Regions from separate parts of the Homo sapiens genome. Here region 2 is linked to region 1. Evidence: fine-mapped expression QTL. A gene starts in region 1. The other region holds a variant in brackets. All regions are shown on one strand. Distances are between the middles of the regions. Region 1 holds the start of HDDC2 (HD domain containing 2). Region 2 overlaps HEY2-AS1 (HEY2 antisense RNA 1).

What was found. PIP is the estimated chance that this variant, and not a neighbour inherited with it, causes the effect.
Region 2: its variant is the best candidate, but not a certain one, in a credible set for the expression of HDDC2 in cerebellum (GTEx, PIP 0.78).

What each region holds. Positions count from the first base shown.
Region 1 is chr6:125,299,863-125,305,243 of GRCh38, reverse strand. It overlaps HDDC2 (HD domain containing 2), which reads left to right and starts at 3,277. Exons shown (of 6, transcript NM_016063.3): 1 at 3,277-3,395; 2 at 4,585-4,706. The coding sequence starts at 3,312. RefSeq lists a cis regulatory region at 1,574-1,754 and a silencer at 3,248-3,587.
Region 2 is chr6:125,572,327-125,577,707 of GRCh38, reverse strand. It overlaps HEY2-AS1 (HEY2 antisense RNA 1), which reads left to right. Exons shown (of 5, transcript NR_183491.1): 5 at 1-180. Among named protein-coding and RNA genes, the nearest start is that of LINC02523, 99 kb to the left of the region's middle. The variant G/A (reference allele first, on the strand shown) is at 3,038.

The DNA of each region.
Region 1 (5,381 bases):
GCCACACTGCATTTCCTCCTGGAAGCTCTAGGGGAGAATCTAATTTTCCTGTCTTTTTCAGCTTTTAGAGTCTGCCTGCATTCCTTGGCTCATGGCCCCTTCTATCTTCAAAGCCAGCAATGGCCAGTTGAGTCTTTCTCCCATCACATCCCTTTGGCATTCACTCTTCTCCTTCCCTTTTCCATCTTTAAGAACCCTTGAGATTACATCTCACTCATTGGGATAATCCAGGATAATCTCCCTATTTAAAGTTCAGCTGATTAGCAAAGTTAATTCCATTTGCTACCATTCTCCTTTGCCATGTAATATAGAAATATTTGCAAGCTCTGGAAAAATTAGATATCCTTAAGAGGCTACTATTCCACCTTCTAGAGTCAAACATCTTGGTCTTTAATGATATAGTAGGAATAAACCTTGTTACGAACCCTGATGAACATCTTCAGTTTACAAAAGCAAGAAGTCGGCACTATATTTTGAGTTTTCACAGTAACAATTTACTTTTAGATAGTAATGTCCCCTCCAAAAATCCATATCATCTTTAAATAGTGTCCCTCAAAAACTATTTATACTCAATTCATAATTTTTCAGCAACTTGACGTCTTCCAACTTCTGATCACTTAGGAAACTGGAGAAATTCTTTACAGCTCACTACACAAAGTTAAGATAACTCACGTGTATTTTGCAAAGAAAGTTGCAAATACAGACAGAAATACCCATGGAAACTAAATCAAGCCTGCATGAATCAGGAGGAGCTCAAAGGAAATCAATGCATTGTTGGCAAAAGAAGACAAGGCTGCTCAGAAGGAACCGTAAGGGTTACACTGCACATTCACCAGCTAGCTTGCAGCCCCATTGCTTCATGGCACCTATCTCTTGAAAGCCCCTTACTACATCCTTCAGCAAATCCAACATCCTCATCTTCCTTATTCTCCTGGATCTTTTTGGTCATTTGCTTTCGTGTTCCTCCAGTGGACTGTCTGACTTTGCCTCTGATTCTTGATCCTTCTTTTTAAACCTTGATCCCTCCATTTTTTAATTTTTAATTTTTTAGAGACAGGTTCTGTTTCCCAAGCTGGAGTGATCATAACTCACTGCAGCTTCAAACTTCTGGGCTCAAGTGATCCTCCCATCTAAGCCTCCCAAGTAGCTGGGATAAAGGCACAAACCACACCTGGCTTGATATTTCCTTTATTTAGCACCACTTACCATCATAAAAATGGCTTCCAGGTCATTATCCTAACCACGTTTAATACAAGCCCCAATGTCCTTGGCATTTATTTGGTTCTTAGTCATATTTAATCTTGTTGCTGAACCAGTCTTCAAAAAAATTATTTCATGCCTTCTTTCTCCTTGTATTAGTCCATTCTTGCATTGCTATAAAGAACTACTTAAGACTAGGTAATTTATAAAGAAAAGGTATTTCATTGGCTGTACAGGAAGCATGGCTGCAGAAACTCACAATCATGGTAGAAGGTGAAGGGGAAGCAGGCATCGTCTTCACCTGGCAGAGCAGAAGAGAAAGAGAGCAAAGGGGGGAAGTGCTACACACCATTAACCAGATCCCATGAGAACTCACTCACTATCACAAGAACTGCAAGGGGGAAGTCTGCCACCATGATCCAATCACCTCCCACCAGGCCCCTCCTCCAACTTTGAGGATTACAGTTTGACATGATATTTGGGTGGGGTCACAGAGCCAAACTATATCACTCCTTAAACCTCAAATGCCTCCTCCTCTATTCACAAACATTCTAGCCTCCTTTCTTCCCAGAGGCCTAGCAAGATTGCACTCCACAGGCCCCCTTTGAAGTTAGACGTGGCAGTGTTACTTATTTCACCAATGATACGTAGACAAAAGGTCATATATCACTTCCAGAGACAGGCTTTAAGAGCCAGAGTGCCACTTTTCTTTTTTCCAATTTTGGCAAAAGAGAGCAAAGAAAGCCTCCTAGCTCCCTGAGTAAGGTTAGAGCAAGCAGCATCCTCTAGCTGATCTACAATAGACACTTAGCATGAGAGAGAAATAAACCTTTGATGTGTTAAACTGCTGAGATACAGGAAATAAGGAGGTTGTTTGTTATTATAACATCCCAGCCTATACTTTGCTTCCTAATTTGGTGAGAAAATAGAAGCAATCAGAAGAGAACTTCTACAACCTCCCATGACCACATGTGCGACTGATTAGTCACCCTATACTCTGTCCTCCTCCAATATTTGAATGAATTCTCCATATTCCTATCTAAAGCCCATCTTTTATCTTGTACACCAGATGGGAATATTTTTCCTTACTCAAGGCCGACATTCAAATATTTCTCTTCTTTGTCTCTTACATAATCAATGTTTCCCTTTCTACTAGATCCCCTTCATCAGTAAACATACATAATATCTCCTGTTTTGAAACAATCTCTCCACTAGTTAACAGCACCCCAACCCCATCTCCAATGTGCTGTAATACTTGCTCCTATTCTCTTCGGAATTATCTCACTAGGTTCTGCTTGGCCCACTACACTGAAAACTGCTTTTGTCAGGGTAACCAATAATATTGAATTTACTAAGTCTGGAAGTCAAACCTTGGTCCTCACATTGACTTGGTTGACCATATTCCTTCCTTCTTGAAATATTTTTGTACATGGCTTCCAGGACACAACTATCCTACCTACTAATCCTCTTCCTACCTCACTGGCTGTTCCCTCTTGATCTCACAAAGCCTAAATGTTGGGGTTCAGGTCTTGGGTGTCTTTTCTTCTTCATTCACACCCTCTTGCCAGGTGACCTCATCCAGTTTCATGGTTTTACACTGTCAACTGAAGAATAACGAGGTTCATAAATTTAGAAAGGAGAGCTTTATTTTTCATAAAGAGTACTGAGTGTCAAGTATGTGCCAAGCAAGGTGTCTGCCACTGACGGAGCAATGCCCAAGCAGCGGACACCAAGGCCAAGAAGGCGAAGGCTGGACAGAAGGTCCTGAGAAAACCGTGAGAATATGGAGGAGGGGGAGGAGGAATAAGAACAGGAGGAGGAGGGGGAGGAGGAATAAGAACAGGAGGAGGAGGAAGAGGAGGGGGAGAGAGGAAGAGGGGCAGGAGGAAGAGGAAGAGGAGAAAGCGGAAGTGGGGGAGGAGGAGGAGGAGTTGGAAGGGGAGGAGGAAGAGGGGGAGCAGGAAGAGGGGCAGAAGGAAGAAGAAGAGGGGGAGGAGAAAGAGATAGAAGAGTAAGAGGAGGGGGAAGAAAGACAAGGGGAAGGGGAGGAGGAGGAGGACGGGGAGGAGCTTCGCCGCGGCCTGCTCCGCCCAGCCGGGGTCGGTGGCCGCATGGCTTCGGTCTCCTCTGCGACCTTCTCGGGCCACGGGGCTCGGTCCCTACTGCAGTTCCTGCGGCTGGTAGGGCAGCTCAAGGTGAGCGGGCACCAGGCCGGGAGGCCGCGGCCGAGCGGGCGGGACTGTGGGGCGGCGGAGCTTCCGGCCTCCCCGCTCGGCCGGCGGTCTTTGCCCTTCCTGCGCCGCGTCCGCCACGCCGAATTCCGGAAAGGCCCCAGTCCTGCGGATGCGGCCGCGCGTTGCCGACGGTGGACGGAGGAAGCAGCCGGCGGGACAGGCTGGCCAGCTGGGGCGGCCCGGAGTCTGAGCCTAGAGCCTGGCGCCGCGAGGTCCGCACTGCAGCCGCGCCAGTTCCCGGAGAGCAGCCGGCCTGGCCCTGCCTGCACTGAGCTTTTCCGGGGCTCACGACCCCAGAACTCGTGTGTGTGTGTGTGTGTGTGTGTGCTCACGACCCCAGAACTCGTGTGTGTGTGTGTGTGTGTGTAAAGCGCGGCTGCTTCTGAGCACGGGTGGGAAGAACAGAATCTGTCGGCTCCTCAGATTTTAAGTGGAGCTTTTTATGTCTGTCTCACAGTTACTTCCAGAAACAAGACTTTTCTCCCGGCCACCCCCCAAACGGGATTTAATGTAATACACACGAGTTTCATCATGTGCGTCTTCCCCGTCTCTCTCCCAAGTTCAAAGTAAATTATCCGTTTCATGCCACTCTGACTACTATTTATAACATTCCTTAGAGATGTAGAATTCTGAGGAAGAAATGCAGTTTCACAAGATGAAGTTATGATGTGAATAAAAGGAAGAGTCACGGCTGGTAGCATCAAGCAATTAGAAGTGCCCTTATCCCTTGTGCCTCAGAATTTGGAAGCCTATCACTCGTTCACGTTCAGACCCTTCAATACAGTGTTTTCTGCTTGTGTAGGATTATTTGAAGGCAAAAAGCCGCAACTCTTGTTCGGAAAAATGCAGTTTTGTTTTTGTTTAAAGGACTTGCATATGTTCCATAATTATACATCAGTAACAGAATAATTTGACGAATGGACTTTGTGACTTATCTCTCTCTGTCTTCTACCCCTTTCATTCTCTGAGCTCTCTAGTTCATTTGATTCCAGATGTCTATCATTTTAGCTAGTTTAGCAAAACATTTTGTAATAGGTTCTGAAATTATGACCCGGCTTCTGTGTGTTATATCCTGGACATCTCTTGAAGAGCATAGCAGATAGTTAATATTTGTTCTTTAAAACTTCTTTTTCTTCTTCATATTTATCAGAGAGTCCCACGAACTGGCTGGGTATACAGAAATGTCCAGAGGCCGGAGAGCGTTTCAGATCACATGTACCGGATGGCAGTTATGGCTATGGTGATCAAAGATGACCGTCTTAACAAAGACCGGTAAGCTGAGCTGGACTTTGATGCTCGTGAGAGATTCTGGTCTATGGGTGTGCACCCGTTTTTACTACTGAGACCCATGTCAAATCCTTGTAGGTTAGTTTATAGGTCAAGAAAAATTATTTGAAGCAAACCATACAAATTTAGGATGTGGGTTATGTTGCCTCAGTTGTTGTAAACTGCAATCTGGGGTTTCTGTTGGCAAGTGATAGAGCCTGCCTAGGGTATCAGGGGAAACTTAAGTGTGATATTGGGGCCTTGAAGGTGAGTGTGTTATGTCTAAAATTCTAGCATTGTATTAGTACACTGTGTGCTCTTTCCTAGTGCCTTTTATGGATAGTAGTATCCATTCGTGAGGCTTCCTTTTGGAGTTGTGTGTGCAAGACATAGCTGAGAAAGAGGTATCTTCTCCCCCTTCATTTAATCGACAAGTGTTAAAATGCTTTTTGAGCACAGAACAAAAGTTTACTAGCATGTAAGAGAGTAAATAAATCCCAAGTGAATTACGCAGGCCCAAAATAGCTTCTGTAAGAAGTGAAATGTAAGTTATGGTCGAAAATGTTAAGTATTGTAAGAGCAGGGGAGATCACCTGTTCTTGGTTGATCTTAATGGAGGAGGTGCAATCTGAGTTGAGCTCAAAAGGGTTAACGTAGCCAGAGAGGTAGGAGAAGTCACTG
Region 2 (5,381 bases), 270 kb before region 1:
TTAATCTTCCTAATTGAATATTTAGCTTTTCTAGGCCTGCACAAAATGTAAATCACAATGTTTACAATCTGTGAAATAATAGGAGAGTACATAATGTCATTGCAATATTTTGTAATCACTGTTAAATGACTAAAATCTATTAAACTCAATCATTTTAAATTAAACTTCTAAACTTCCCCATTGCAGGTGATGGCAACTCCATTTTTACAATCGCTTAGGCCAAAAAAACTTGACGTCATCCTTGACTCTTCTTTCTCTCTCATCTCACAAGCAATTCATCAGAAAATCCTGTCAGCTCTGCTTTCAAAATTTAACCAGAATCTGATTCCTTTGCATCACCTCCACTGCTACCACTCTGGTGGAGCTGCCAACATCTGTCACATAGATTAAGTCACACACACACACATGCACACACACACAGAGTGTATTCTCAGTCAAAGTGATCTTTTTAAAAGGGAAATAAGGCCATTCTACTCCTCTGTTCAAAACTTTCAAATGGCTCTCCACTTTTCTCTGAATATAAGCTCAAATCCATACAAGGACTTGTAGAGCCCCCGTTACCTTCTGACCTCATTGCCTCCTACTCTGATCTCTTATGCAGATCCTGCCCCAGTGGCTTCCTTGTTGCTCCTGGGTCACATAAGGAATGCTCTTGTTATTTGTTCCAACTCTTTCTCAGTGCCCTCTCCTTGATGTCTGCTTGGATATCTCCCTCACCTTCTTTAATTGGACCTCTACCTTTCACCATATACAAAAATTAACTCGAGATGAATTAAAGATTTAAATGTAAGACCTCAAACTCTATAAATTACAGAAGAAAATCTGGGAAATTCCCTTCTCAATGTCAGCCTTGGCAAAGAATTGATGGGTAAGTCCTCAAAAGCAATTGCAACAAAAAAATTGACATGTGGGACCTAATTAAACTAAAGAGGTTTTGCGCAGCAAAAGAAACTAGCAACAAGTAAACAACCTATAGAATGGGAGAAAATATTTGCAAGCTATGCATCCAACAAAGGTCTAATATCCAGAATCTATAAGGAACTTAAATCAACAAGCAAAAAACAACCCCATTAAAAAGTGGACAAAGGACATGAACAGACAGTTCTCAAAAGAAGACATATAAGCAGCCAACAAACATGAAAAAATGCTCACCATTGCTAATCATCAGAGAAAAGCAAATTAAAACCATAATGAGATATCATCTCACATCAGCCAGAATGGCTATTATTAAAAAGCCAAAAAATAACAGATGCTGTCAAGACTACAGAAAACAGGGGACACTTACACACTTTGGGTGGGAATGTAAATTAGTTCAGCCACGGTGGAAAGCAGTTTGGAGATTTCTCAAATAACTTAGAACTACCATTTGACCCAGCAATCCCATTACTAGGTATGTACCCAAAGGAACATATATCATTCTACAAAAAAGACACATGCACTTGCATGTTTTTTGCAGCACTATTCACAAAAGGAAAGACATGGAATCAACCTAGATGTGTATCAGTGGTGGACTGGATAAAGAAAATGTGGTACATATATACTATGGAATACTATGCAGGCATACAAAATGAAATCATGTCTTTTGCAGCAACATGGATGCAGCCGGAGGCCATTATCCTAAGGAATAGAAAACCAGGGCCGGATGTGGTGGCTCACACCTGTAATCCCAGCACTTTGGGAGGCTGAGGCAGGCAGATCACAAGGTCAGGAATTTGAGACCAGCCTGGCCAACATAGTGAAACCTCATCTCTACTAAATACAAAAAAATTAGCCGGGCGTGGTGGTGTGTGGTGGTAATCCCACCTACTTGTGAGGTTGAAGTGGGAGAATCGCTTGAACCTGGGAGGTGGAGGTTGCGGTGAGCCGAGATCGCGCCACTGCACCCAGCCAGGGCGACAGTGCAAGAGTCCGACTCAAAAAAAAAAAAAAAAGAAAAGAAAATGAAACCAAATACCACATGTTCTCACTTATAAACGTGAACTAAACATCAAGTACATGTGGAGATAAAGATGGGAGCAACGGACACTGGGGACTGCTGGGGTCGGGGAGTGTTAGAGGGGGTGCTGAGGAACTGCCTATGGGTGCTGTGCTCACTGCCTGGGTGACCAGATCATTCATACTTCAAACCTCAGCATCCCACAGTGTTCCCATGTGACAGACCTGCACACGTATCTCCTGAATCTAAAATAAAAGTTGAAATTGCTTTTAAAAAAAGACTTGGCTGAAATATCTCCTCTTTAATAAGGTCCACTGGGACTACCCTATTCCTACTGTCCCTTGCTGTCCCACTCACTTACCCTATTCAATTTTTAAATTCTTATTGCCTTCTAATTTACAAGGTAATTTACTTAATGTGTTTATTGACTCTCCCACCTACTTCTACAATACAATGAGGGCAGAGATCATTGAGCACTAGATCAATGTGTAGCACATAGTAGGCAGCTTATATAAATTTTCTGGAAGAATGAATGAATGAAACCTACACATTATGAGGTTGATTCTTTTGTGAGTGTGACATGAACTGTGACAGTACACTCCTCCAAGGTCTGAATCTGTGAAGTCACCTTCTTTCTTTGCAGAGGAAAACATTGGGGGGCCCTGAGGAGAAGCCTTTGCTGCAAGTGGACCACAAATTATGCAAGGAGTCTTGGGACAACATCCCTGGTAAACTCTTTCTGTGTTACATTTCGGGATGATGGACGTGGGTGTTGAGAACACTCTGTTTTTGGAGTTAGGACTTGTCCTTGTTTTCAATTGGAATTTGAATGACTGAGAAAAGCTGTGCAGATCGAGTTCCCTGCCTCCTGCACAAATATTTCCTGGTCCGGTTTCAGGTATCCCTTTCCTTAGGTGGGTTTGTCACTGAGGGATTAAAGCGCCTTGTGATTCAGAGCCTGGGCTGTCATGGTGGTGCTGACGCACGTGCAGTATCTTGGATCTCTATTCAGTTCCTCATTCATGCTCACCTTCAGGCTGAAATGAGGAATTTGGGCAGTGAAATCAAATGCCTGAACCTGAGGAGCACCCGCTGTTTGCC[G/A]TCTGTCCACCTCTCTGATCCCAGGACTGCCCTGCCTCTGGTGGAATGAAAGTGAGGTGAGAAGGGCAGATATCACAAATAAGAATAGGAGAGAACACTGTATACATATTAGGGAAATCTAAAGAAAAAAGATGGATGGCAAGGGCTGGAAGAAGGTGAATATATGGCAAGAAGAGATAGGTTGAAACTAGAAGGGGAGAAGTCAGGCTGAGACGCGGAGCTGACCCACAGGACTGTTCATTTGCTGTAATGCGCCCTTACTCCCTGGCATTTCCAAGCATTATGTTTCCTGGTTGCATGAGGAACATACTATTTATTTTTTTTCTTCATAAAATCTGGGAAAAGCTACTTCATCATTCAAAGTTGGAATCATTGCCAATAGGGGAAGAAAATATTTTTCCAAAATCTGCAAGCATGAGTTGCTTTAAAAATGTAGAGATTAAGAGGCTCTCAAATGACCCTCAGACCGCTAACTCACTTTCCAAGATATTCCACATTGGACTTCTAGCCATAACGAGATATATTCTTTTATACATCCAAATTGATGCTCTCCACACCACCTTTTGCAGGCTGGTTTCAGTCACTGGGAAATTTATGAACAGCAAATTACCTTTGTTCAATTGCTTCCTGAATATATGCACTGCAAGAGTAGCAGTGATTGTGAAACAGCAATGTATTGACAGAAGTCAAAAAAAAAAAAAAACTTAAAAAAAAAAAATGGAACCTATACGAAAGAGACTTTTCAGGTCTTGGGAGTGTCCAGTACAGGTCTTAGCAGCCTATGGAAAGGCCCTGTGTTGTCCAAACAGCCTCCTGTAAGGTAATGGCCATAGCAGCACATATAAAAGGAATGGTGGAAAGGTGCAAAAGTCATTAACGGGGAGAAATAGGAAGCAATCAGCAACACTTTAAGCAAATTATTACCATGAAATTACACTCCCAGCTTGAGATAAGTGTCCTGGATCTGTTAAAGCTATATACACCTCGCTGGCTTAAATGCGACTGAGGAAAGTTTTCCTCTTTGGGTTATTTATGAAGTGTTAGGTCATGATTGACGGTGGTGCTTGAGGAAAGGGGGGGCTGCCCAATTCTTCCCAGGCTTTCTGCAATGGCTAATTCCCTGTATTGAAGATTTGAGGAGAGAGGCTTTGCAAATACTTACTTGGACAAGAGGCTATCTTTCTGAAGGAAACTTATTGGACTGACTGCATTTTATTGAGGAGTTATTTTGAGTTGAAAAGTCCAGTGCTCTTTCCTGTATTACCATGGGAATAAGAATGTGGGTGTTTGCTGCTGGAGCTAACTTGGCATCCTAGTGGCTCCCACCCATGGCCCACTCTACTGTAAAGGGCTGTTTTCCTTTCTCCAAGAGTCTTGTACCTCCCCATATCCACTCCTCTGTGTTGAATATTCCTGTGACCAGGCCTTATGTTAGGTCCTATCATCATCTCTTGCTCCATCTTTTGGAATTGACTTTCAAAATGTTCTCAATTCATAATGACTCAGAAGCCAATGGATGTTTGCTTTTCTACCCACAACCCCACAAGTCTGCACATCTTGAGCTGCAGGATGATCCGGAACCAATCTCTTGCCCCCTTGATGCCCCATCAACAGCAGCTCAGACCATTGCACTTGGCGTGCAATGAGAGCACCTCTCTGCTTCAAGAAGCGTCATTCTCTGCAGCACACTTGTCTGTTTTTGAGTCTCTTGTCCGGCTGGCTGTGCTTTAACCTATTTGGGCTACACTGGTGTGTTGCTCCTCAAGGAACCAAGCTGGTACCCCGTGGCCCTAGGTGCTTTGATGGGCAGTGAGTTTTTCTGGTGCCTAACACTCTTCTATTGTATTTGTTTCCTGGATACACTATTCCAGCTCTCAACAGCCATCCTAGAGGTAGTGATAATTCTCTTTTACAGTTTCCCTTTGTTTCTTCTTGTATTAATCACAAGGAAATCTGTGAAAACATAAGGCTTTGATTTTTTTTAAGACTTTGAGTTGGATCTTGGATGTTCATTTTTGCAGAGAGGCAGAGGAGTTGGGGTACATACAGGGCATAATAAATTCAGACATATGGGGAATATAGAAGACTTGATATAAGTAAGGAATAAAGTTAATGAATTTTGATGTCATTGTAATACAGATTAGAACTGTACTCTCAAAATCTGTACAGTACTCTCTCAAAAATCTGTACTCCCAAAAATCTTAGAATTGTAAAATATTAGAATTGAGAGAGGATGTAGAAAAGATTGTGTTTAATCTCAAAATGAAAACAATAGTACCATCAACACATATGGTAAATATTGACATCCAGTCTCTCAAACCTTCTAGAAATAAGGAACTTGCAA